5 separate regions of the Homo sapiens genome follow, and all the other regions are reported to be linked to region 2. Evidence: microRNA targets listed by miRTarBase, many of them from high-throughput screens and not tested one by one. Region 2 holds a microRNA gene; each other region holds the end of a gene's coding sequence.
Evidence for each region. The annotated mature microRNA hsa-miR-1253 reads AGAGAAGAAGAUCAGCCUGCA and lies in region 2 at 3,594-3,614, shown strand. An mRNA with a match to its seed (bases 2 to 7 or 8) in the 3' UTR can be bound and repressed. Matches are read on the target gene's strand: a 7mer-m8 pairs with bases 2 to 8, a 7mer-A1 pairs with bases 2 to 7 and ends in A, and an 8mer does both.

Region 1: the mRNA of FOXRED2 is a reported target of hsa-miR-1253. Seed matches in the 3' UTR shown: 7mer-m8 at 3,512-3,518 and 7mer-A1 at 1,707-1,713.
Region 3: the mRNA of ASH2L is a reported target of hsa-miR-1253. The part of its 3' UTR that is shown has no 7-base or 8-base seed match.
Region 4: the mRNA of GPR173 is a reported target of hsa-miR-1253. Seed matches in the 3' UTR shown: 7mer-m8 at 3,933-3,939.
Region 5: the mRNA of ZSWIM4 is a reported target of hsa-miR-1253. Seed matches in the 3' UTR shown: 8mer at 3,964-3,971.

The regions. Positions count from the first base shown.
Region 1 is chr22:36,485,708-36,490,832 of GRCh38, forward strand. FOXRED2 (FAD dependent oxidoreductase domain containing 2) reads right to left here. Exons shown (of 9, transcript NM_001102371.2): 9 at 1,483-4,560. The coding sequence ends at 4,301. Among named protein-coding and RNA genes, the nearest start is that of TXN2, 6.6 kb to the left of the region's middle.
Region 2 is chr17:2,746,628-2,751,752 of GRCh38, reverse strand. It overlaps MIR1253 (microRNA 1253), which reads left to right and starts at 3,571; the gene lies at 3,571-3,675. It overlaps CCDC92B (coiled-coil domain containing 92B), which reads left to right and starts at 2,101. Exons shown (of 4, transcript NM_001355573.2): 1 at 2,101-2,342. RefSeq lists a silencer at 1,722-1,911.
Region 3 is chr8:38,138,479-38,143,478 of GRCh38, reverse strand. It overlaps ASH2L (ASH2 like, histone lysine methyltransferase complex subunit), which reads right to left. Exons shown (of 16, transcript NM_004674.5): 15 at 4,604-4,663; 16 at 3,399-4,515. The coding sequence ends at 4,408. It overlaps STAR (steroidogenic acute regulatory protein), which reads left to right. Exons shown (of 7, transcript NM_000349.3): 7 at 1-779. Among named protein-coding and RNA genes, the nearest start is that of STAR, 10 kb to the left of the region's middle. RefSeq lists a silencer at 4,994-5,000.
Region 4 is chrX:53,077,210-53,082,329 of GRCh38, reverse strand. It overlaps GPR173 (G protein-coupled receptor 173), which reads right to left. Exons shown (of 2, transcript NM_018969.6): 2 at 1,715-5,120. The coding sequence ends at 4,587. Among named protein-coding and RNA genes, the nearest start is that of TSPYL2, 2.6 kb to the left of the region's middle. RefSeq lists a silencer at 1-98 and an enhancer at 4,681-4,740.
Region 5 is chr19:13,830,527-13,835,651 of GRCh38, reverse strand. It overlaps ZSWIM4 (zinc finger SWIM-type containing 4), which reads right to left. Exons shown (of 14, transcript NM_001367834.3): 14 at 3,398-5,125. The coding sequence ends at 4,602. MIR23AHG (miR-23a/27a/24-2 cluster host gene) reads left to right here. Exons shown (of 1, transcript NR_036515.2): 1 at 1-1,136. Among named protein-coding and RNA genes, the nearest start is that of MIR24-2, 3.3 kb to the left of the region's middle. RefSeq lists a silencer at 1,779-1,968 and enhancers at 2,079-2,128, 2,179-2,228.

The sequences.
Region 1 (5,125 bases), not on the chromosome of region 2:
GCTCTTCTATAGGTTTATCTTTCCAGTTCTCTATCTTTTGTAATTTCTTGTTAATATCTGGCCAACTGTTAGTGACAAAATGAAGTTTTAACATTCCCTGCCCAAGAGGATCCTTGAGACCTAGACCAGTGTATTTTCTCATTTGTTCCTTTAATCTATCTAAAAATTCTATAGGCCCTTCATCTTTCCCTTGCTGTATATCAAATATTCGGGTAAGATACTGAGTTCGGGGTACCAATTTTTTTTTTTTTTTTGAGATGGAGCCTTGCTCTGTTGCTCAGGCTAGAGTGCTGGAGTGCAGTGGCGTGATCTCGGCTCACTGCAAGCTCCGCCTTCTGGGTTCACGCCATTCTCCTGCCTCAGCCTCCTGAGTAGCTGGGACTAAAGGCGCCTGCCACTATGCCCAGCTAATTTTTTTGTATTTTTTAGTAGAGACGGGGTTTCACTGTGTTGGCCAGGATGGTCTCGATCTCCTGACCTTGTGATCTGCCTGCCTCGGCCTCCCAAAGTGCTGGGATTACAGGCGTGAGCCACTGCGCCCAGCCTCGGGGTACTGATGCTTTAATCCCCTTTATTATCAATTCCTTAAGGTCCTGCATATTTTCTCGGTGGGCTGCGTTGTTATTGTCCCACTGGGGGTCTTGGGTGGGAGTTTTTTGATCTGCTGTAGGAACGTTTTGGCCAGGAGGGTGTTCGTGTTCCTAGGCTCCCATAGCAGCTCTATGGATCATGTCTCTTTCTTCCCCCGAGAAGAGGGGAAAGGGAAATTCTGAATATCTTTTTTACATTGCTCTATCTCACGTTGAAGTCCTTTAAGGGAAAGGTACTTAGGTCGGTAGTGAGTGGGCTCTTGGGACGATTCTCAAGAGGCAGGGTTGTAAGAAAGGGGACATCAGAGATAGGAGAAGGGTCTGGGACAGCAGCTGCTTTTGTTTTTGGTCCTTTCATTATCCTTCTAACATTTTAACATTAGGCCTGGGGGAATATTACTGTTGCTAGCTTTCTCCTTTTTATCTCTTACCTTACTTGGGGCATTTCCCATCTTGGGTCCTGGTTAAGCTCAATCTCCCCTGTTGGAGATGTCTCGCCTATCCTTTAGCCCCACCTGCTGGAGGCTCCTTGCATTCATGCACACTTTCAACCCCCAGAATATCCTGACCACCAAGGAAATACTTTGTCACCCCTGCGATGTTTCTTAGCTTGGTCTCTGCACACTTACTTGGTCGCTGTGGTACATGAGGATCCTTTCCCCCAGGTCGCCAGCCCGTTTCTTTCTGCCTTGCTGAGAGTATAGGTTTATTCGTCACACTGGTTGGTCTCGATTCCTTACCCCTGTGGCCACCGCAACAAGGCAGTGGGACGTGCCTCCTCATGGGAGAGGTCTAGACCCTCCTCAGAGGAGGATGGGAATCCCAAATGAGACCCCAAATTTGTTAGAAATAAATTTTCAGTGCCACAAAAGAAATAGCACTCAAACATACATTTTCTCAGCAAGGCAATTTTACTTCTATACAAGAGTGCGTCTCATGGATGGTGCAATGGCGAGAGCACACCGGAACAAGGGAGGGGAATGGGTTCTTATCCCTGATGCAGGTACCCCCTACTGCTGTGTTGTTCCCCTATGGGCTAGGGTTGGACCGCACAATCTAAGCTAATTCTGACTGGCTATTTTAAAGAGAGCAGGGGTATAAGCCAGAGTGGTGGGGTGAGAAGTTTAGACAGGAAAGATGGTTACGGACCAGGTGACTAAAGGTGACTCAGGTCAGAGCAGGTGACAGAGGCTAGGAGGGGATTGTTTACTGAAACTAGGGGCAAGGAGACATAAAGAATGAGGAAATTAAAAGTTAAAATGAAGAACAAAGAACAGGTGAGCTGAACATACTGATACATTGGTTCTTTGGAGAGGATCTCAGAACTCAATGTACTTAACAAATTACAGGCTAAAACCTTTGAAGAAGAATTTATGATATCCTACATTATCATGGGGTAAACAATTCGTCCCTGACAGAATAAGGCTACTGGAGTTCTCTTCTTGTAACTCTGGGAAGGACTAGAGGGAACTGTGTCTGCAGTGGGGCCAGGTAGTTAAAAAGTCTGGACTGGGCCGAGCGTGGTGGCTCATGCCTGTAATCCCAACACTTTAGGAGGCCAAGACAGGTGGATCACCTGAGGTCAGGAGTTCGAGACCAGCCTGGCCAATGTGGTGAAACCCTGTCTCTACTAAAAATACAAAAATTAGCTGGGCGTGGTGGCAGGCGCTTGTAATCCCAGCTACTTGGGAGGTTGAGGGAAGAGAATTGTTTAGACCCGGGAGGCAGAAGTTGCAGTGAGCCGACATCGTGCCATTGCACTCCAGCCTGGGTGACAAGAGCGAAATCCATTGCAAAAAAAAAAAAAAAGAAAAAGAAAAAGTCTGGACCAAGCCAAGAGGGGAAGAGGACGTCCCCATGAAAGAGCTTTGGATCCAGAAAGCCCGGGTTCTTGGAATTCTTTTTCTCTTTTCACTTTTGTTGTAGCATACTTTGTTCTTTTTTATTTTTTATTTTTTTGAGATGGGGTGTGGGGGCTTTACTGTGGGTCTTGCTTTGTCACCTAGGCTGGAGTACAGTGGCTCGGTCTCTGCTCACTGCAACCTCCACCTCCCAGGTTCAAGCAATTCTCCTGCCTCAGCTTCCCAAGTAGCTGGGATGACAGGCATGCTCCACCATGCCCAGCTAATTTTTTTTACCGTTAGTAGAGACAAGGTTTTGCTATGTTGGCCAGGCTGGTCTCGAATTCCTGAGCTCAGGTGATCGGCCCACTTTGGCCTCCCAAAGTGCTGGGATTACAGGTGTAAGCAACTGTACCCAGCGCATGTTTTATTTTAATTTAATTTAATTAACTTATTTTTTGAGATGGAGTTTCCCTCTTGTTACCTAGGCTGGAGTGCAATGGCGCAATCTCGGCTCACTGCAACCTCTGCCTCCCGGGTTTAAGTGATTCTCCTGCCTCAGCCTCTCCAGTAGCTGGGATTATAGACATGTGCTACCACGCCTGGCTAGTTTTGTATTTTTAGTAGAGATAGGGTTTCTCCATGTTGGTCAGGCTGGTCTCAAACTCCTGACCTCAGGTGATCCACCTGCCTGGGCCTCCCAGAGTGCTGGGATTGTCCTTGGAATTCTGAGTGGATACATGAAGAGTTAGTAAGAACCAGTGAAAAAGCAATCACTTATGATCCTGGGCTTTGAAAAATCACTGTGATTATCTTATGCACTTACAAATGAGACTAAGACGCCTGATGGGAAAGTGCAGATTGCTGGTGAGGAAGGGCAATGAAGAAGAGACTAGGAACCAAATTCATCATCATTATCACACAAAGGCATTTGGAAATGTCACCTTACACATGGTGAGCACATATGGGTGCCAGCCCGAGACAGCAGGATAAGTTTCACAAAACTTGACCAGGCAGGTTAGAAGCAAGGCATGGTTCAGGATGGCAGAGGGCAGGGAGACAGAAGGGAGTAGGATGGGAGAGAAGAGCCAGCTGGAAGATGAGTCAGGGGGTGCAACTGGGGAGAGCAGCTCTGAATCCTGCTTCTCAGTGAGAAAGTTGCTAAGATGGCTTTGCAGGGAGCTGTCCTATCGCTGCTCGAGATCAGCCTGCTGGGCCTATGATGATAAGCAGGGCTGACCCTCTTGGGCTCTGTAGCTAAGCCCAAACCCTGCTGAAAATGGGGCGGGGAGGTTGAGGCAGTGTGTGGCAAGTGACACAGACGGGGACTCCCAGCTGGGGGTCCCTGGAATTACTTGACATCCCACAGCTGGTGTCTTCAGCAGTCATCTGGGGCAACAATCCCACCTGCCCATTGTGGTTGTTGAGGATATCAGAGCTTTTGTTTTAAAGCGCTTGCCACAAACTCTTAAGATGCGGATGGGTTTCCCCTGTGAAGCACTCCACAGGCGGGATGCAGGCCCATCTGAGGAGGGGCTTGGAAGGAAGAGGAGCACTTGAGACGGGGCAGAACTGGGCTGGCCTGGGGCTCAGCGACAGCTCCATTGCAGACAAACTGGGCTGGGGAAGGCAGCTCCCACCTGGCAGAGGATGCCCTTCTGCCCCCTGACAGGAGGGAGGAGACCACCGCATCCCCGACTTTCAGCCCTCACGTGCCATCTGGTGGCTTTGCTGCAGACACTGCCATGATCTGAGTGGTCTTTGGCAATCACGCATTGGCGGGAGTGTGAGGTTGCGGGGAAAGAGGGACTGACCATGGGCCTAGGTGGGGAGGCCTGGCCACTGTGCCCACAGCTTAGGAAGGGACAGTCAGAGCTCCTCTTTGTTGCTATCGACGGACTGAGCCAGAGGCCCTGGAGCCAGGGGGGAACCTAGTGGCTCTTGGTCGCCAAGCTGCTGGCTGCTGTCCTCCAGGCGCCTGCCTGTGGGGGCATAGTCCCGCAGGAGCCTGCTCTCCACTCTGTGCTGCCAAAGGCTCTCGGTACTCACGAGTCCCTGCATCCTCAGGTACCCCTGCTGGCAAAAGGGTGGCAACTTCTGGCGCGTGAGGGCGAACAGGAAGCAGGACTCTACACAAAAGCAAAATGAGGAGAATGAGCCAGGCTGGGACATGTGGGGAGGGGTGCAGAAAGGGGAGCTGCCAATGCCAGGTGTGGGGGCTTCACTGCAGGCCTTGCCTGGTATCTTCCATCCCTTGAAACTGGGAGCTGACCTTTCTGGGCATCTCACGTCCAACCTGAGTAGGTCATGAATCATGACCCTCCACGAGGCTCCAGGGCAGGGGGCTGCCTTGACACTCTGGAAGAACAAGGCTCCAAAATAAAAGCAAACCACAGCAATGCCTCAGCTCCCAGACATCAGGGCTGAGCACCGGGCTCTGCAGGCAACCACACTGGGGGCGGGGCTCCGACCTTCATGAGCAGACCCTCGGCCTGGTGCGGCTGGGAACTCAGTGGTCAGTTCCACTGTGAGCTCAGATCTGCCTGCAAAGACGCAGTCCCTCAACAACATTTGAGTTGCAAATACCATGTGCAAAGTTCTGATCTAAACAGTGTGGGGGATAAAGAAAAACGGGTATATCCTCATCTGTCCCACAACAGAAAGCTGGTGCATGAATCAAATTTGGTCAATCAT
Region 2 (5,125 bases):
CTGCCCTCTAGGAAGGACAGCAAGAGACAGGAAGAGGGGTGAGGCTGGCCTTTCTGTTCCTCTCCCAAGGATTTCCTCAGACAGGATGAAGAGGGGCCACCCACAGTGCAGCTAGTAGCTAGAGTTCCTGCAGGGTGGGATTTGAGAGGCCTTTGAACAAAATTCAAACCCCGCAGCCTGTCAAGCCACCTAAGACAGTCATTCCTGCAACTCTCTGTTTGTTTGTTTGTTTGTTTGTTTGTTTTGAGATGGAGTCCCACTCTATCACCCAGGCTGGAGTGCAGTGGTGTGATCTTGGCTGACCGCAACCTCTGCCGCCCAGGTTCAAGCGGTTCTCCTGCTTCAGCCTCCTGAGTAGCTGGGATTACAGGCACCTGCCACCACGCCCGACTAATTTTTGTATTTTTAGTAAAGACAGGGTTTTATCATCTTGGTCAGGCTGGTCTTGAATTCCTAACCTCATGATCCACCCACCTCAGCCTCCGAAAATGCTGGGATTAGAGCCGTGAGCCACTGAGCCTGGCCCCTGCAACTCTTTAGGATTAGAATTTTCCAGGAGCAGCTAAAGCTTTTTAGTTGTTGACACCTGAGTCCAGTTAACCTTTGGAAAGTGGGGAGGACAGGGAGGAAAGGGACCCATAGAGAGGCAGGGTGCCCCTTGAGGCCTCCCCAGGGCCTCTGTGGCAAGTAGGTGCCGGGTCTCCCAGCTCTGAAGGTACAGGGCTTCTCTGAAAATTTGGTCCAGGAGGAAAGGCCAGGGATTATTTGGCTAGCCATGGAGTGGGGAAAGCCAGGCACCAACCCATTAGCCTGAATCCACTCAGCCCAGTCCTCCAGGCAGGGACAGGAATGACTTACCCAGAGCAATCTCTGAGCCACCTGCCACTCACACAATGCTACCTCATCCCTTGTCATGAGCACAGAGGCCTAACAAGCACTCAGCAGTACTGTTCTGAGCACTTTACAGGAAGGAATTCATTTAATCCTCACAACAACCCGAAGATCTTATGAGCTACATAGATCATCATTATCCTCATTTACAGATGAGACCAAGCCCCCGGCAGGAGGAAGATATTAGGGCAGCCACACTTTTGAGGCACACAGTGGGACTCCTGAAGCCTCCCACGTTTGGTGAAAACGGATCAACAGCAATGCCTCGCACGTGTTCTGAACTTTGGAGTTTTTTTGTTTATTTGTTTTTGACATAGAGTCTCGCTCTGTCACACAGGCTGGAGTGCGGTGGCACGATCTTGGCCACTGCAACCTCTGCCTCCCAGGTTCAAGCGATTCTCCTGCCTCAGCCTTCCGAGTAGCTGGGATTAGAGGCGCCCGCCACTCCCGGCTAATTTTTGTAGTTTTAGTAGAGATTGGGATACATACACCATGTTGGCCAGGCTGGTCTCGAACTCCTGACTTCAGGTGATCCGCCCGCCTCGGCCTCCCAAACTGCTGGCCTCACAGGCGTGAGCCACTGCGCCCGGCCTGAACTTTGGAGTTTATCAAGAATCTTCCCTTGGCTCTTGGGACCCTCATAGAACTTAAAGCATAATAATAATAATAAAAGAATTTTAGAAATAGGGCATCTTATCAACTGCGGCCCAGAGAGGTGATGTGACTCACCCAAGGCCACACAGCTAGTGAGAGGTCTGGGGCAGGTTTGCTGCTGCCTAGACACGGGACGGATTCCCAGCCCACTGGTCAGATCGCGCTTCGCCCCAAGCCTTGCCTGCGCGGCTGCGGGCGCTGCCTCTCCTTCCTACGCCAGGGCGGGAGGGGCGGAGCGGATCGCGGCCTGGCGGCCTGGGCGCTGTCCGCGGTGCTGATCCTTCGCCGCGCCCCTGCGCGCCAAGGCACCGGCGGGTTCCCCAGTTTGCCCTTCCAGCTACCAGCCAAAGCCAGCTCCGCGAGCCCAGCGGCCCGCTGGGGGCCTCAGGCCCGGTTCCCGGGGCTCTCGGGGCTCCCGGGGTTCCCCCTCCCCCCGACCGCGCGCCGCCGGCCTCCCCTCCCCCCGCCCCGCCCACGGCCCCTCCCCGCCCGTCTCAGGTCCCTCCCCTCCCCCTTTCTCTCTCCCGCCCCCCGCACCCCTCCGGCTCGTTCGCCAGTTCCGGTCACGTTGCTGGGTGTTTACGCCTCGAGCCCGCCCCCGACCCCCCTTCGGCGCCCCCGAGCCCCCCGGAGCCCCGGCCCGACTGCCCCGCAGCCTCCCAGCAGCTGATGGCGCCGCAGCCGGGGCGGGCGCTGCAGATCCCCGGGCGCAGCTAGCGTGGGGGGAAGAGCGCCGCCCCCACCCAGCCCGGCCCGGACCCAGGGCCCCGCCGGCCGGTGACTCCCAGGTCCCGAAGGTGAGGAGGCCGGTCGGTGGGCGTGGGGGGTGTGGGCGCCGGAGCGGCCCCAGGGGGGAGCAGCGCGGCCAAGCTCCAGCTCCCCCGGGAGGGCTGGCGCGGGGCTGGGCACCGCAGCGCGCGGGAGGCGGACAGGACTCGCGGCGGGCTGCTGGCAGAAGTTGTCCTCCACCGCCCAGACCCGGGCCCTGCCTGGCACTGCCGGGCGTCCAGAGCGGCCCGAGGTCGAGCCCCGCCACCTCCCGCCACGCACACCTTTATTTCTGCTGCCTTTGCCCTCCTCTCTGCTACCTCGCTTCCCCGTCCTCCTTAGTCTCCACATCCCCCCCCCAACCCCTGCCTTCCCTGGGAGTCATATTGGAGGCATAATCAGGGCAGAACCTGAAGCCTGAAGGGGGTGGGGGGCTCCAGTTTCCCCATACACCCCATTCCCGTGTGACTGGATCCTCAGCTTTGCTGAGGTGGAGGGTCCTGAGCGCTTCAGTGCAGGGGGCAGCCAGAGTTGAGGGGTTCGGCGGGGAGGGGCTCCGGAGTGGAGAGGACCACAAGGTCCCTGGGGAGTGTGGCTCCACCACTGGCCAAGCGGCCCCACCTTGCAGACAGAGTCCTAGACATTTGTCAAAGGCTGAATCCTTGTTCCAAACTCCAGTCCCCAGGAAAGCCAAGGATGTGGGGTTGAGGGACCAGCATACTTATTTTTTAATATGTGTATTTACTTGCCCTGGTGATTCCCAGTAAGACTCAATCCATTCTCCCTGTTTCAGCAGCATTCATTGTGGGCCTGTTCCTTGCAAGAGATTCCCAGAGACAAAGCCTTGCCCTCAGGAAGCGTATGGCTTAGTACAGAAGCCAGGTGCATTCAGGCACATGCACACACACACACACACACACACACACACACACAAACACGATGAAGACTTATGGCTTTGCACGGAAGCCAGGTGCGTGCAGGCATGCGTGCACACACACACACACACAGAACAAAGAGTGATAATATGGCAGACTGTGGTGCTAGCTGCCACCCAGATTCCAACAAATTGCCTGGGGAACAGAGAGGCGGGAGAGAGTCGTTCCATCTTGGTGGGGGATCAGGGATGGCTTCATGGTAAAAGTCACATCAGAGCAAGGCCCTGAAGGATGGGTCAGGCTTCAAGAGGCAGAGATAGGGTGGATATAGTAAGTGAGGGGATGGCCTGGCTACTGGGCTACTGGAAGAGTTTGTCATCAGAGCAGCAAGAGATAGAATCCAAAAGAGAAGAAGATCAGCCTGCAGATGTGGACTGCTAAATGCAGGCTGATCTTCTCCCCTTTGGGATTCTCTTATGAGAAGCCATAAACGCCAGGACGAGCACCCAGTGGGGTGCTTCTAGTTGCCAGGCACTGTAGTTGCAGATACTGAGCAAACTACTTTACCTTTCTAAGCCTGTCTCCTCATCGATAAAGTGGATACATTAATAGAATCTTCAACGTGGGGTTGTTGCCAAGATAAATGAGTTAATATATGTAAAATGCTAAGAACAGTACCAATTACTTATTATTATAAGTATTATTATTTATGCATTGATGCCATGTCCAAGAAAGGCTTCTTGAGTTCCTGCTTTCCGACTGCCCCAGGCCTCTGAGTCAGGCCATGAACAGGAATAATGACTAAGAAACATAAACCTCATATTGATTATTTCTTTTGAGATAGAGTTTTGCTCTTATTGCCCAGGTTGGAGTGCAGTGGTGCGATCTCAACTCACTGCAACCTCTGCCTCCCAGGTTGAAACGACTCTCCTGGCTCAGCCTCCCGAGTAGCTGGTACTACAGGTGCGTGCCATCATGCCCTGCTAATTTTTGTATTTTTAGTAGAGATGGGGTTTTGCCATGTTGGCCAGGCTGGTCTCAAACTCCTGACCTCAGGTGATCTGCCCCAGTCGGCCTCCCAAAGTGCTGGGATGACAGGCGTGAGCCACCGCACCTGACCTGATTCATTTATTTGTTCACTTATCGCCATGCTTGTCCTATCTAATATACCCGCGCTGACTATAAGAATAATAAAAATAAGTCTAACATTCTCCTTAAAACAAGAAAACATACATACTTAAAGAACTTTAAGAAAACATGGCTATTGACTGTTAAGAACAACACAAAGATATCTGTTGACTTGATAAATATTTTCAGTCCCAAACAGAAAAGAAACACTAGGAAAAGCTGAAACTGGGACAAGAGAACCCGCCAGTGAGTGAGGGGTGGCAGACAATGCAAACCCCAGGCAAGCAGGTCACAAGAAGTGTGGGGTCTGGTTCCTCTTCCAGCGACCTCCTCTGCTTGAGGGAAAGAAAGAGGTGGCAGAGGCCAGGGGACCTGGAGCAGACAAAAAGGGTGTGGGGAAGGTGAGATTTAGATACCCAAGGAAATATTGGACTGTAAAAGAGGTTTTCAAACTGCTGGTTAGCAGGCCAGGCGCTGTGGCTCACATCTGTAGTCCCAGCCCTTTGGGAGGCTGAGGCGGATGGATCACCTGAGGTCAGGAGTTCAAGACCAGCCTGTCCAACATGGTGAAACCCCGTCTCTACTAAAAATACAAAAAATAGCTGGGTGTGTTGGGTGGGTGCCTGTAATTCCAGCTACTCGGGAGGCTGAGGCAGAAGAATTGCTTGAACCCAGGAGGCGGAGGTTGCAGTGAGCCAAGATCGAGCCACTGCACTCCAGCCTGGGCGACAGAGGAGACTCCGTCTCAAAAAAACAAACAGCTGAAGCAGGGAGAGAACTGTAGTTTCCCACTTGCCAAGTCAGTTGTA
Region 3 (5,000 bases), not on the chromosome of region 2:
AAAAATTAGCTGGGTGTGGTGGCGCAAACCTGTAGTCGTAGCTACTTGGGAGGCTGAGGCAGGGGAATCACTTGAACCCCGGAGGCGGAGGTTGTAGTGGGCCGAGATTGTGCCACTGCGCTCCAGCGTGGGCGACAGAGTGAGACTCCATCTCAAAAAAAAAAAAAAAAAAATCTATGCTAGTAGATTACAACTTCACACTAGAGGAGTTCTGGACAAAGCTTTTAATTAGTCAAACTAAATTAAGGCTCATTAAAAGGAAAGGAACTACTGGGAAATTATGCAATTCAATAATTTAGACTCTGTTACCAGGATCTTTCATAAAAATTTAATTTCCATAATCATAACCTAAATGAGTTCTTAAAGAATTCTATAAGCAATAGCTGATTAATGGGCCCTGGAAGATGAAGATTATAACTGTTTATTTACCTAATTAAAAGGAAAGGCAGTGCCAAATATGAGAGGATAAACAATATTAGTTAACATTTCTGTTATTTATGATGCCAATTAGTAGTAAGATAATTCCACAGCTGTCAACTTTGTTTGGGGCTGGCAACTTCTCTGCTTAAACAGGCTAAAAGTTTAGTATTCTGGGAGAAGTGGCTGGAAGAAGGGGTAATATGGTGAAAGCAAATTCCCTTTCCCAGGAGTCAAGAGAATTTATGTGAGGTGGCTCCCGCCTGTAATCTCAGCACTTTGGGAGGCCAAGGCAGGCAATCACCTGAGGGCAGGAGACCAGCCTGACTAACATGGAGAAACCCCATCTCTACTAAAAATACAAAATGAGCTGGGCGTGGTGGTGCATGCCTGTAATCCCAGCTACTTGGGAGGCTGAGGCAGGAGAATCGCCTGAACCCGGGAGGCGGAGGTTGAAGTGAGCCAAGATCGAGCCACTGTACTCCAGCCTGGGCGACAGAGCGAGGCTGTCTTAAAAAAAAAAAAAAAATTATACACACACACACACACACACACACACACACACACACATTGGGATGGGAGGGGGGTAGGGAGGATGAAAAAATCACCATTACCACCTGAAGCTTTTCCATTCTTGTTTTAATAGCATTGATGATTTGCACCATTTGGAGATAGAGCTCTGGCTTATTTATTATAAAACAGGAGCTGGGCACAGTGGTGCCTACCCACAATGCCAGCTACTCTGAAGGCTGAGGTGGGAGAATTGCTGGAGGGCAATTCGAAACCAGTCTGGGCAAGATAGTGAGACCTCATCTCAAAAAAAAAAAAAGAAGGAAAAAACAAAGGAGTTGATGAAACCAAATTATGACAAACTAAATTAAAAAATTAAAAAATAGCATTAGTGGGAACACTGTGGTATTTCCTGAGGTATTAAAATTTTACAACTAGTAAAGGTATTTATTATAATTTATTCGGATTGTTTCTTAGTTTATTTTTGACATGGATAAAATTATTGTTTATCTAGGAGCCTCAGAGTTGAGAGAGGATAGTTGTAGAGAAGTATTTCTAAAATGGAATTATCATCCACTACCAGCTAAGAGAAAATAGTTACTTGTTTAAAGATACCTTAAAGCAACATATATTGTAGTTTCAAGAGAACAGGCTGACAGTCAAGAAATAGGCTTTTAACAAACCCACTGGTTTGCTGGATTCTAATTGCCTCCTTCAAACTATGTAATTGTGTCTTTCTGGTTTCTGTGGAGATATTTTCCCACTTGTTTAATTTTACACTGGAATAAAACAAGTTATCACTGTTGATCTGATTACAGAAACTATTTTATATAGGACGCTGTGAAGAGTAGATATTCTCTGAGCCCTTCAAATGAACTGTATTAAAACACACACACACTTTTGAAGTTTGAGAAGAACATCATTACCTGTAACCTTTGATTTGTGAAAATATATACAAAAAGCTAATTTTATAATTTAGATGGAGAGTGTGTATACAACTTATATGTGGTAATTTATATTACAAAGAGTTAACATTCAGCTTCCTCTAAATAACACCACCCTCATTTTCTTGGAGTACCTCAAACTCCGATGATCTAGAAGCTTTATAACCAGGTCTGCCCTTGAAGACTAGTTCACGCATTAATAGGTGTCTAGGGCTGAGCCTCAGCCTCCAATCACACTCGACCTGTATAGGCTTTCCTGTTCAGAGATATGCAGTGGCCAAATCAAAGTGTCTGGGTGATTCATCGGGAGACAAATATATTAATCAATGCTACTATGTTAAAATACCAATATTGTCTTGAAGTGTGGGAACTCTCTTAAACAGGAAAATGATAAGATATTCAGAAGAGCCACAGGCATAACATGGTGATTCTGCAGCAGCATGTCACCCTCCAGTGGTGAGCCACTCTACTTATTAACCGAGGTAGAGAGGTAAATGCAGGAGGGACTTTGGGCAATCCTGGGAGGGCTGTCTTTGCCGTAAGACTGATGTATTGAAAAAAGGAAGACAGGCCGGGTGTGGTGGCTCATGCCTGTAATCCCAGCACTTTGGGAAGCCGAGGTGGGCAGATCATGAGGTCAGGAGATCGAGATCATCCTGGCTAACACAATGAAACCCCGTCTCTACTAAAAATACGAAAAAAAATTAACCAGGTGTGTTGGCACGTGCCTGTAGTCCCACCTACTCAGGAGGCTGAGGCAGGAGAATTGCTTGAACCCAGGAGGCGGAGGTTGCGGTGAGCCAAGATTGCGCCACTGCACTCCAGCCTGAGTGACAGAGCAAGACTCCATCTCAAAAAAAAAAAAAAAAAAAAGAAAAAGAAAAAGAAAGAAAAGAAAAAGGAAGATAAGGAAATTATATATGAATCCAAAAGGAAAGGGTTTTTTGTTTTTGGACACAGGGTCTTGCTCTGTCGCCCAAGCTGGAGTGCTGTGGTGCAAACATGGCTCACTGCAGCCTCGAACTCCTGGGCCCAAGGGATCCTCCCACCTAAGCCTCCAGAGTAGCTGGGACTACTGGCATGTGTCATCACGTCTGGCTAATTTTTTTACTGAGAAGGGATCTTGCTATGTTGCCCAGGCTGGTCTTGAACTCCTGGTCTTGAGCAATCTTTCTGCTTTGATGTCTCAAAATGCTGGGATTATAGGTGTGAGCCACAGTGCCTAGAAGCCTCATTCTTTTTTTTTTTTTTTTTTTTGAGACAGAGTCTTGCTCTGTCGCCCAGCCTGGAGTGCAGTGGCACGATCTCAGCTCACTGCAACCTCCGCCTCCCGGGTTCAAGCAATTCTCCTGCCTCAGCCTCCTGAGTACCTGGGATTACAGGTGCCCGCCACCACGCCCGGCTAATTTTTGTATTTTTAGTAGAGACAGGGTTTCACCATGTTGGTCAGGCTGGTCTCGAACCCCTGACCTCGTGATCCACCTGCCTCGGCCTCCCAAAGTGTTGGGATTACAGGCGTGAGCCACCGCGCCCAGCCTAGAAGGCTCATTCTTACATTTCAGTCTTTAATAGTCCGAAAACTGCCCTTTAGCCATCAGCTCAGGGCAAAGGAAGATAAGCAAGACAGGAAACCACCCGCACATATATCAACATCCATGTTCCAAGGGAAGACCGGGAGGGAGATCATTAGCCCTTTTAAACTCTTGTTCCTCTCCTCAAGGTGGCAGATTTTCACAGGAAAGGGGGTGGCTGATTGGCAAGAATGGGAGCAATAGGAAAGCAGCCAAAACACAACTCAGAAACCCGGCTCTTCCTCCCAGTGCCAGCTCCCTTCCTCGTGCTGCTTACATTTCTGAACACTGTCACCAAGAGGCACCCAATCTGAAGGGAAGCAAAGTGTCACATAAACTTCAAAACAAGTTTTATTTGGGAAGTTTCTCATTTTGTTAAAGCTGCAAGCAAGTTTCTTTCACAATTACACTTCCAGAGATCTAGTAGTTTTACGGATCTCAGTGTTCAAAAGTGTATTTCAAAATGAACAAAACCAAACCCACACCAAAAGGAAATAGCGTTTAGATTGGTTTGGAATGTATAGCCATTGATTTCAGGTGTTCTCAGAAACAGGTTACCATTTCCTTGGAAAACAGGTGGGATACAGTCAATGCCCACAGAAGGAAATGTCTTTTAAATAAGTTAGTTACTCGGACAATATTATTCACTCCTTAGAAAATATAGTAGGATAACAAGTCACAGCTGGCAGGGTATGCAGTACAGCACCGATTTCACAGGGGGCTTATGCAATCCTGGAGTCAGCGGTTGTTGGCTTATGGTACACAAAATAAGAGCAGTCACTGGAAGTGGGGAGAAAATGGTGAAAGGCAGGCAGTCTCCCGCAGTCCTACCCAGCCTTTTAACTTGCTAAAAGGAGAGGCTGTGTTTTTAGCATCTTTGGGAGAACATTTGAGACAGTTCAAAAACAAAAACAAAACCCCCAGTATTATTCCCAGAAAGTCCTTGACAGAAAAGAGGGACCTGGTCAGGGTTCCCATGGGGGACTGCGCCTCCCATCCACTTCTGTCTCCACGTGATACAAGACGTCAGCCAGGGTGTGCTCTACCACGGCGCCCCAGCCCATGTCACTCATCTGCAGGAGGAATGAGAAACAGAACACGGTGACTACAGCAGCCACGGAGATGCTGAGGACACATGCAGCCATTTGTAATGTTACTCACAGGGCGGTAAGTGAGATCCTTCGGAGGATACTTGAAGCATGGTCCAAAGTTAATGGAAACCTGGAGCGAATTCAATTCAAGCAGACATGGAAAAAATGGACAAAAAATATTGGAAAAGTTAATTTGACACAGGAAATTTTCACTTTAAATGTGGCTACAATACTCGGGGGATAAATGGAACAAATAAGATATATATTAAATATTACTAAAAGTGGTCAACATCCTGATGTCCATCAAGAATTAGGTAACTAAAAGAGATCTGTGTTGATTTCTGTTGTCAAAGAAAAATAAAAATTCAGGATCCCAATTTGCTCTGTCAAAAGGAAAAAATTAAGCTGAAAGCTGAGTCATGCAAGAAACTGCCTTTCCTTTTGTTGCTAAGCAGACACCTACAGAT
Region 4 (5,120 bases), not on the chromosome of region 2:
CGCCAATCGCCGAAGCCCCGCCCACTCCTGACGCAGGGGTCCGCTCGGCCTGGCCATTGGCTGCCGGCCGCCGCGGCGGCGATCGCGCTCCCGCGACCCCTGCCCGCTCTCACGCAATCCGCTTGCCAACACCACACATCATCAGTTTCCGATTGGCTCCCCTCGGGCCCGCCAATCAACGGGCTGACTCCCTCAGCGACGGGAGGGAAACTGCAGGGCGATTGGCTGCGAGGAAAGCTGGGGAAGAAGCCCCTCTCCCTCACCCTCTCAGCGTTTTATCCAATGGGAAAAGTACCAGTGGTTCTGAAGACCAAAAAACGAGACGAAAAACAAACGCAGGCGCTGAGCAGGATGTGCTCACATGAAATTGGAAGAGCCTCGTTATCGTTCCCCCCGCCCCCCTCCCCTCAGCAACTACGCACTTTTAAAATCTGCCCCTTCCCCCATTTCCTTCAGCTCCTTCCCCCACCCCCGCTTCTGCCCCTTCCCCCATCCCGGGTCCTGCCCCTTCCCCCATCCCAGCTCCTGCCCCTTCTCCCACCCCCGCTTCTGCCCCTTCTCCCATCCCCCACTGCTGCCCCTTTTTCCATCCCCGCTTCTGCCCCTTCCTCCACTCCCCGTTTCTGTCCCTTCCCCCACCCCCCGTTTCTGCCCCTTCCCCCATCCCCCGCTTCGGCCCCTTCCCCCACCCCACCCCCGCTTCTGCCCCTTCACCCCCCGCTTCTGCCCCTTCCTCCCCCGCTTCTGCCCCTTCCCTCACCCCCCCTTCTGCCCCTTCCCGCATTCCCTGCTTCTGACCCCCATCCCCCAACTGTCTCTTCCCTCACCCCCACTTCTGCCCCTTCCCCTATCCCCCAACTTCTGCCCCTTCCTTCACCCCCCAACCCCACTTCTGCCCCTTCCCTCACCCTCCCGCCCTCCGCTTCTGCCCTTCCCCTATCCCCCAACTTCTGCCCCTTCCCTCACACAACCCCTGCCCCCCGCCCCCCCGCTTCTGCCTCTTTTCCTACCTTCCACTTCTGCCCCTTCCCCCACCCCCCACGTTTGCCCCCTGGGTGAACTCTGCTGTAGCTCCTCGGGGGCTCGGGCTGCCCTACCGCCTGCGCCTGCAATTTAGGCACCCAGGGTGTTTGGTTTGGGGGCCAGGTTTTGACGTGGCGTTTTCCATCTCCGCAAAATGGCTCTACAAATAATAATCACACACACAAAAAAGTAACTTCCTCTGCGTCATAAAAATGATTGTGATTCAGCTCATCTGCTAGAATTTTCTAGCACTTTCTGTCTCTTCATTTCTCCCCCTTTCCATCCTTTCCTCTCCCTTTCCCCAGTGTATGCTGTATTTTAAGATTTTTCTTTTTAAACCAGAGATGGATGGTCTTTTGTGAGGCATGGTGGTGGAGGGCTGGCTTTGGTGCTGGGATTCACATCATGGGTGTGCCCCTCATTTTGTAACCTTAACCAAATCACTGCCCCTCTCTGAGCTTCAGTTTTCTCTCCCCTAAATTAGGCATCCCTCAAGAGAGGTGTAGGTAACTGCCCATTGCAGCCTTGTCGCGGAGCAGAGAGGAGACCTAGGGATCCATCATCAGGGGAGTGGATAAGAAAAATGTGATATATGTTTTAGATGGACCACTAGAATGAATTAGATCTATATACGGCAACATGGCTGGATCTCTCAAAGACAGAATGTTGAGTGAAAAAAGAAACAACAAGATTTATAGTACAATACTGTTTATGTAAATTAAAACACACAGCAATACCATACATTTTTCACAGATACACATATATGTAAATAAACACATGAACGGTGGATTGGAAGGACGTACGTTAAATACACGAGAGTGGGTGCCTGTGTAGGGGGCGGGGAGGATGGGATCAGGAATGGGTGATGAAGGGGACAAAACTGAAGAAAAAAAAATAAAAGGGCCTCACATGGACCAATGATGATATAGTGTGCCAAGAACTGAGGAGTATGGTCAACTCAATTCTGTGCACCTGAGAGAATAACCAGATAGTAAATTAACTGTCTAGGGAGCAGGCTGGCTGGGTAGACTCCTGGGCTTGGGTTTTTTTTCCCCATGACATCCCTCCCTCTAAATTTGGTCAAAGCTGACCAAAGTCCCAGCTGCATACAGTGGCCCCTAGGAAGGGCTCCCATCCCAGACTGAGCAGTCCCTCCAGAAGCCATTACTTTGTGGGGGGCATTTCCTAACCTCATCAGTTTCCCTCACATTTGATCCTCAATTCCCAGTCCCCATTCTCCATGGTGGTCCAATTTTAGGAACACCTTGTTTGAGTTTGGGAAGGAGACTGAGACGGGGTTGAGATGGGGCTACAGGCTTTGTGAGGAGATGAGGTTTTCAAGTTCCCTGGCGGCCCCAGCCCTCCCGTGCTCAGGGCCTGGGCCAAGGGAGGCCCATCTTGTGAGATGGGAGTCTACCCTCTTGCTACCGACCTATGTAGTTTCCAAGATCCATCTCTTGACCACTCGACTTCCTACCACGGGCACATACTCTAGTTTGTCTCCTCTCAACTGTGGTGTGTGTGTGTGTGTGTGTATGCATGCACGTGCTGTATCTGTCCCCATATACAGGCATTTTACGTGTGTGCACCGGGCAAGTTTTCTTCAGGAGTGCCTCCCCACACAAAGTCACACAGACACACACTATCACTCAATCATGTCTCTCCACATGTGGTCAGACAGGGCACATGCACGCACGCACGCACACACACACACACAGTCAGAAAGAGAAAACATCCAGTATAGCATTGTTCATTTCAGTTTTTCCATTTACAAAATCCAATGGTGAATCCAGGCAGTTAGAAAAAAGAAATGGAGGAAAACCCTCCTAAATGTACCCTATCTACCCCCCACCCCCTTGGTCTTCCCACCCCACCCCCTCGGAAAGGCACCCCCATCACTATCGCTGAGAGAACAGGCTCCCCTACTCCCAGCCTCTCAGCCACTCTGGCCTGCCTTTCCAGGGCCACTCTGCAGCCAGGCTCATTAATGTCTCTCCTGCCTAGAGTGCCCTCCCCATTCTGTATGGGTCAGGCTTCCCCAGTTCTGGGGCTCTCTTGGGCTAGGGAGGGAGTTTAGGACAGGGACTTCTATAAAGAAGGGAAAGGGGGATGGATAAATACAGATTCCGGCCCCACAGGAAGTGAGAGGGGGACAGAGAGCCTGGGTAAGACCAGGGCAAGGAGTGCCAGCTTGGCTCACCAATCCACAGAACAGGCCTCAAAGTAAGCCCAGAGTGGACTCCACCCCTGGGAGGAGGCTTGGATCTCCCTCCTGGAGAATCTGACTGCAGTGTGCTCCACTTTGGGTGTAGGTAAGGGTGGGGGAAGGATGGGGAAGGAGGGTTGTTGGGAAAGAAGGATGCTTGGGGCTCAGGGCCCAGTCAGCCAAGGGCTACTAAGGAGGGGCTTGAGGCCCCTGAGGCTTGAGGGGGACAAAAAGAGGTCAGATAGGAATGGACTCAAGTCCACAGTGCCTTGGAGTTTGTACCGCTATCGGTTACCAAGGCCCCAAACAAATTTTCATCTTCAGAAGAGTAGGGTGAACCCGAGAGACAATTCTGGGGTTGAAATCAGCTCTGACCCAAGTCTCTGTGGTCCAGCTACTCTGGGGAGTTCAGCTCCCTCCTTACACTTTCCTGGTGGGCTGCTCCTGCCTGTATGGCACCCACATCAGTCCTAGTGGGGCTGGAGTGGATTTCCATCCTCAGGAAGAAGAGTTGGGGGCTGGGGATCCTGAAGGCAGCGTGAGAGAATGTGACCAAGTGTGGGTCTCTTCAGTTCGAGGAGTTCAGCTCACATCTTACTCTTCACCTAACCTGGGCCCATCCTTGGGGCCCTTCTCCCTACTCCCTTGACTTCTCCAACAGATGCACAAGAACCATTTGGGAGGTCTGGACATGGTGGGGAGGGAGAAGAGACTGGGCTTGGGGCAAGGGTTGGCCTAAAACAACATTGCACATGACATAGTAATTAAACATCCCTGCTCCCTGGGAACCCAGCACCCCCTTTGGTCCCTCTTGTCAGCAGCCTTGGACCACTTTCTCCCTAAACATCCAGGCCTTGCTAAAGGACTTGGAAGGGGAGGGTGCATGGGAGCAGAGGGGGCAAAAGAGCTCTGGAAGTCTATTTTACAGGACAAATTCCCCCTTCTGGACAGTGTCAGAAGGAGAGACATTAAAGTAAGAAAGCCTGTCTCCTCAGCTGTTAGTAGAAAAACCTGCATTCTCAGTGTTCTTTTCTTTTTCTGAATTGTCACTTCTGAGAGAGAGAGAGAGAGAGAGAGAGAGACAGAGAGAGAGAGAGAGAGAATGAGATTGTAGAAGTGGAGAAGGAGGCAGCGGAGACAGGCCCCACAAAACTAAATATGCCTCTTTCCCAGTCCCTCGCCCAGTCCTCCATCCTTGGGAGGTGTTGGCAAAGGTGCCTAGATTACAGGTGGTTCGAGGGGCTGGGGCTGGAGCTCAGAAAGGAGGACTCCTGTATGGGCCCCTACCCCTCCCTTGCTGTTGGCCCCATCACGGTGGCCATGACCTTCTCTCTGCCTGTCTGCCTACCAGCCTGCTTCACATGACACAGTAGGGTTCTCTGGGAGCCGGGGCACCTCCTGTGCCCCAGCAGGGGGCGTGAGTCCTCAGGCACTTCTTGAGGTCCTTGTTGAGCAGGAAGCAGACAATTGGGTTGACGGCAGCCTGGGCGAAGCTCATCCAAACAGCAGTGGCCAGGTAGCGGTGGGGCACAGCACAGGCTTTCACAAACACTCGCCAGTAGCAGGCCACGATGTAGGGTGACCAGAGGAGCAGAAAGAGCAGTGTGATCGCGTAGAACATGCGGCCCAGCTGCTTTTCACCCTTGACCTCGTCCATGCCCAGTAGCCGCCGGCTGGCTGCATGCCCATTCTGCCGGATACCCAGCAGGGTTGGTGGCATGGGCCCACGGCCAAAGCCGGCGATCCAGTTGGCAGCAGCCTGGCCGGTGGCCCCGGGACCATGGAATGTCCAGTTCTGGCTGATGGCTGGCACCATCTGCACTGGCTTCATCTTGCGGTGACGATACTCGAAGAGGAGCAGCTTGCCGTAGACAGCATGGGTAGCTGCCAT
Region 5 (5,125 bases), not on the chromosome of region 2:
TTTTTTTTTTTGTTTTTTTTTTTTTGAGATGGAGTCTCGCACTGTCACCCGGGCTGGAGTGCAATGGCTCGATCTCGGCTCACTGCAACCTCCACCTCCCCAGTTCACACGATTCTCCTGCCTCAGCCTCCCAAGTAGCTGGGATTACAGGTGCACACCACCGCACCTGGCTAATTTTTGTATTTTTAGTAGAGACCGAGTTTCGCCATGTTGGCCAGGCTGGTCTCGAACTCTTGACCTCAGGTGATCTGCCCGCCTCAGCCACCCAAAGTGTTGGGATTACAGGCATGAGCCACTGCGCCCGGCCAATTTTTTTTTATGTTTTGTAGAGACGGGGTTTCGCCATGTTACCCAGACTGGTCTTGAACTCCTGACCTCAAGCAATCTGCTCGTCTTAGCCTCCCAAAGTGCTGGGATTACAGCTGTGAGCCACCGTGCCTGGCCTTTTATTGTTTGTTTTTGAGACGGAGTCTCACTCTGTTGCCCAGGCTGAAGTGCAGTGGTGTGATCTTGGCTCACTGCAACCTCTGCCTCCTGGGTTCAAGCGATTCTCCTGCCTCAGCCTCCTGAGTAGCTGGGCTTACAGGCACCCACCACCATGCCCGGCTAATCTTTGTATTTTTAGTAGAGACGGGGTTTCACCATCTTGGCCAGGCTGGTGTGATCATGGCTCATTGCAACCTTGAATTCCTGGGCACAAGTGATCCTCCTGCCTTAGCCTCCCCAGTAGAGCTGGGACTACAGGTATGCGCCACCACACCTGGCTAATTTTTTTAATTTTAATTTTTGTAGAGATGGGGGGGCAGGTCTCACTATGTTGCCCAGGCTGTTCTCGAACTCCTGGCCACAAGCCATCCTCCCACCTTAGTCTCCCAATGCGCCGGAATTACAGGTGGCTCAGGTGTGAGCCACCGTGCCTGGCTTTTCTCCACTATCTTGAAATCAGATGGGAGGAGGCTTTTTTCTGGGTGGGACTGAGGAGGCACACTGAAGTCCCCCAGGTCATCGGGGCTGGGCCATTGCCTTTTTCCCCACCCTGGGTAGTCGTGGACAGAAGCTTGGGATGGGATGGAGAGGAGAGATCGTGCTGTGTGTCATGTCTGTTGTTCAAGTAAATAAAAGTTGCCCTGACTTCATTCCTGAAGGTCTGGTCTGTGATTCACTCCTGCCTCCCATCGCTGGAGTTTCAGCTTTTGATTGGCCTGAATTTACCATCCTGGCACTCCGGGCTCCTGCCTGCCCATCCCTGCCCCACCTGCTCTGTGCAGCAGGGTATCCTGTGCTTGGAAAGGTGACCTTGGGGGTGTCCTGGATCGTGGGGTGACCATGAGGGAAACCCTAGAGTGGAAAGATTTTCACATCGCTGATCAAGGGAGGATGGAAGCTGATCTGAAGTGGTGGTGGTGGGGTGACCCTGAGGGAAACGCTGAGCCTGAGGGGTGACATGTGGCGATAACCAGGATCTGAGGGTCTTGAGCTAGTGACATTTGGGGGCAACTTGGACCTACGGGATTACTCAGGCCTCAGGGGAAGATTTGGGGTGCCTGGTATCTGAGAATGCTGGAGGGGAACTTGGGTTTGAGGGATGTGACATGAAGGAAACCCCAGTTCTTAAGGGGGGACATTTGGATGTGGCTGGGACCTGCGTGACGCCCCAGGAACATGGGAACATTCGTGGGTGACACCTGAGGGGCACAGTAAAGGGTCCCCCAGGTCCGAAGGCGGCAGGGACCACAAGGGGTGCACTCCGGGCTCTCCACCCACCTCCACCGTCCCAGACCTCGAGGCGGCGCCACGGAGCGCGCGGGGCAGTCCCGGGTCCGCCCGCACATACCTGCTGGAATACGCGCGGCGGGGCAGGAGGTGGGGCCGTCTCCGATTGGCCCACTCGAGCGGAGGGGCGGTGCGAAAAGCCAATCCCCATGCACAGCGCCGCCAAAGTCCCGCCCCCGACTGCGGGCCCCGCCCTCTAGCGACGGGCCCTGCCGCTCCGGGAAGCCTCTGTCCTCTCCTGCCCCGGCTCTGGCAGTGACCCAGACACAGCATCTCCATTCATCCAAAAGGCAGGAAGGCCCCGAGGAAACTGCTTCTCGGGGAGCCAGGGACGTTTAGACAACCACGGGCTTTCTCGCCGTCCTTTGGATCCCATCCCTCACTCTATTTGACGACTGGGAGCCTCTTCAGTGGCGCAAGATCCCAGACACGCCCTGGCCACGTCCCCTGGCGAGTGTCCACGCACAGACCACCCCCACTCCGTTTTTCTTCTCTTGGCCAGAGCCCCGCCCACCGAGGTCGAGTCTAAACCCGGGGTTCCCGCTTTTGATCGGGGTGTCTTCCCCATCCAGCTGCACCAACACCTGCCACAGCCTCCCATGCTCAGCAATTTGGAGACAAGGACCCCCAACATTGGTGTCTGGAGCCAGGGCGCCCCCCACCCCCATCTTGGCCCTTCCTAGGGGCTCAAGGACCCTGCAGTCAGGGGTGGGCAGGGGTCAGTGGCCCCAACCAGGTCCTAAATCAAACGTCCTAGCTAGGTGCCCTTCCCCCCTGCCCCCCACCCACGGAGTCTCGCTCTGTCGCCCAGGCTGGAGTGCAGTGGGGCGATCTCGGCTCACTGCAAGCTCCACCTCCAGGGTTCACGCCATTCTCCTGCCTCAGCCTCCCTAGTAGCTGGGACTACAGGCGCCCGTCACCACGCCTGGCTAATTTTTTGTTATATCTTTAGTAGAGACGGGGTTTTACCGTGTTAGTCAGGATGGTCTCAATCTCCTGACCTCGTGATCCGCCCGCCTCGGCCTCCCAAAGTGCTGGGATTACAGACGTGAGCCACCGCGCCCGGCCGCTGGGTGCCCTTTCTTTCCACTTTGCAACCTCAGTTTTCTCATCTGTAAAATGGAAAAGATAATCCTACCAACTCATAGGGCTGTGGTGACGATTAAATGACAGCGGTAACGCATTCAGCCCTGTGTTCCCTCATGGTGAGCTGTCCATCTCTGTTTTGAAATATTTACATAAGGCCGGGTGCGGTGGCTCACGCCTGTAATCCCAGCACTTTGGGAGGCTGAGGCGGGCAGACCACCTGAGGTCAGGTGTTCGAGACCAGCCTGGCCAACATGGTGAAACCCCGTCTCTACTAAAAAATACAAAAATTAGCCCGGTGTGGTGGCGCATGCCTGTAATCCCAGCTACTTGGGAGGCTGAGCCAGGAGAATCGCTTGAACCCGGGAGGTGGAGGTTGGAGTGAGCCCAGATCGCGCTACTGCACTCCAGCCTGGGCAACAGAGAAAGACCAAAAAAAAAAAAAGGGAAATATTTACATAATTACCATGGAATGAAGCCAGCAGTCGCTCCCATCCCACCCCTCGCTTGGCGCTGCACCCAGAAATAAGGCCAGACATTTTTTTTTTTTTTTTTTTTTTTTGCGGAGGAAACGAGGTTGAGGGTGTGAGTGGCTCTGGAGATGCACCCCAGTCTCAAAATAAAATTAAAAAGAAAAATTTCTGTTCAATCTTTGAAAAAAAAAAAGGAAAAGGACATGTAATACACCGTTCAATAAATAGAAAAAAAGTTACAAAATGATGTGGTATTTTGTCCTTAATATACAAGAAGGGAAAAGATGTGGGGGTGACTTGGGGGGGTGATGTTCTCCCTTCTCCTCCCTGGGTCAAGGTGGGGGAAAGGAAGGATGGCCAAAGAGAGAGGGCGGCAGGGACTTAGGTGCAGAGAGAAAGGCAGGTAAGTGCCGGGAAAAATGGAAACAGAGTAAGATGAAGGGGCGAAGCAGAAAGACAGGAGGCGAAAGGGTGAAAAAGCCAGAAAAACACCAAGATACAGGTCTCTTTCCTTTCCAGATCGGGGGTGGGGGTCTCCGGCTCTCTCGCGTCTGTGTCCCCCAACCCCAGGTTGGAAGGGGCAGTGTGAGCCTCGCTCAGTTCCTGAGTTGTACGTCCAGTGACTAGCAGGTGAGAAGAGAGGGCAGCGAGGACTTCCCCAACCCTGAGCCCACCCTGGGACCCTAGTGCCCAAGGAAATGGGGGTCCTGGCCGGATAGGATAAGGGGGTGAGGTATGAGGCTGAGGCCTGAGGCCTCTTCAATTCCTTCAGTGGGGGTGAGCCAATGGTCCTGGCTGGGCAGCCACTTTGGAGGTGGCATAATGGGGGGCCCTGAGCAGTAGGGGGTGGGGGAGGACCCTTGGCCACCCAGGGTGGGGTTGGGGGAAAATGTGCTACATTGACTTAGAGGGTCGATTTCTGGAAAGTCCTGCCTCCCAGCCTCCCTCCTGGAGCCCAAGCCAGTCTGGGTAAGGGGAGTTTGCCTATTGCTTTTGGGGTGCCCAAAGTGGGGTCATACCAGCAGCCCAAGCACACACCCCTTCCAGGCTTCTGGGTGGCAGTATGGCTTCTGCTTCTGGAGTCTTGCACACTTGCTCACAGACTCCCAGGCACACACGTGGCAGGATGCTGCTCCCCCTGCCCCCATCTCCAGCCGGGCTCCTTCCCTGACTTAATAATACTGAAATGCCACGTGGGCCTAATTGGAGAGCAAGGGTGGGGGACGCAGGGGCGAGGGGGATCCCCACTCCCACGCACCCCACTGTCCCTCAACCAAAACGCTCCCGCACCAAAAGCATGAGTTTCTTCTTGCCCTTGTAGGTCTGTTTGAGGTTCTCCAAGAACTGTGAGAACTGGAGGTGCCCGTCGGGCGCCAGCAGGAAGGTCTCCCGGGCCTTGCCCAGGAATTCGATGAAATCCCCATAGTGCCGCGGGCTGATGTGCGTGAGGCGCGAGTGGCTGGTGGTGATGTAGGCGGTGACTGCCGCGTCCAGGAGCTGGCAGAGCGGCGCCCGGTCGGCACCCAGTGGCTTGGCGGCCCGGCGTGCCCCTAAGGGGCCCAGACCGGGCGCCGAGAGAGTCCAGCGGCGCAGAATATCGGACAGCATTGGGGCACAGTGGATGCTGCGAATGATGAGGGGGACGATGGCAGAGAGCTCGTGCCGGCCCAGGGAGTGGCTGAGAGAGCAGGCCCAAAGCACGTCGTTGACGGCAGGGTGGCTGTCCTGGTTGAAGGCGATGCTGAGCTGCGCCAGGGCCAGCGTCGCCAGCTTGTAGGCCCGGAGCGGCAGCC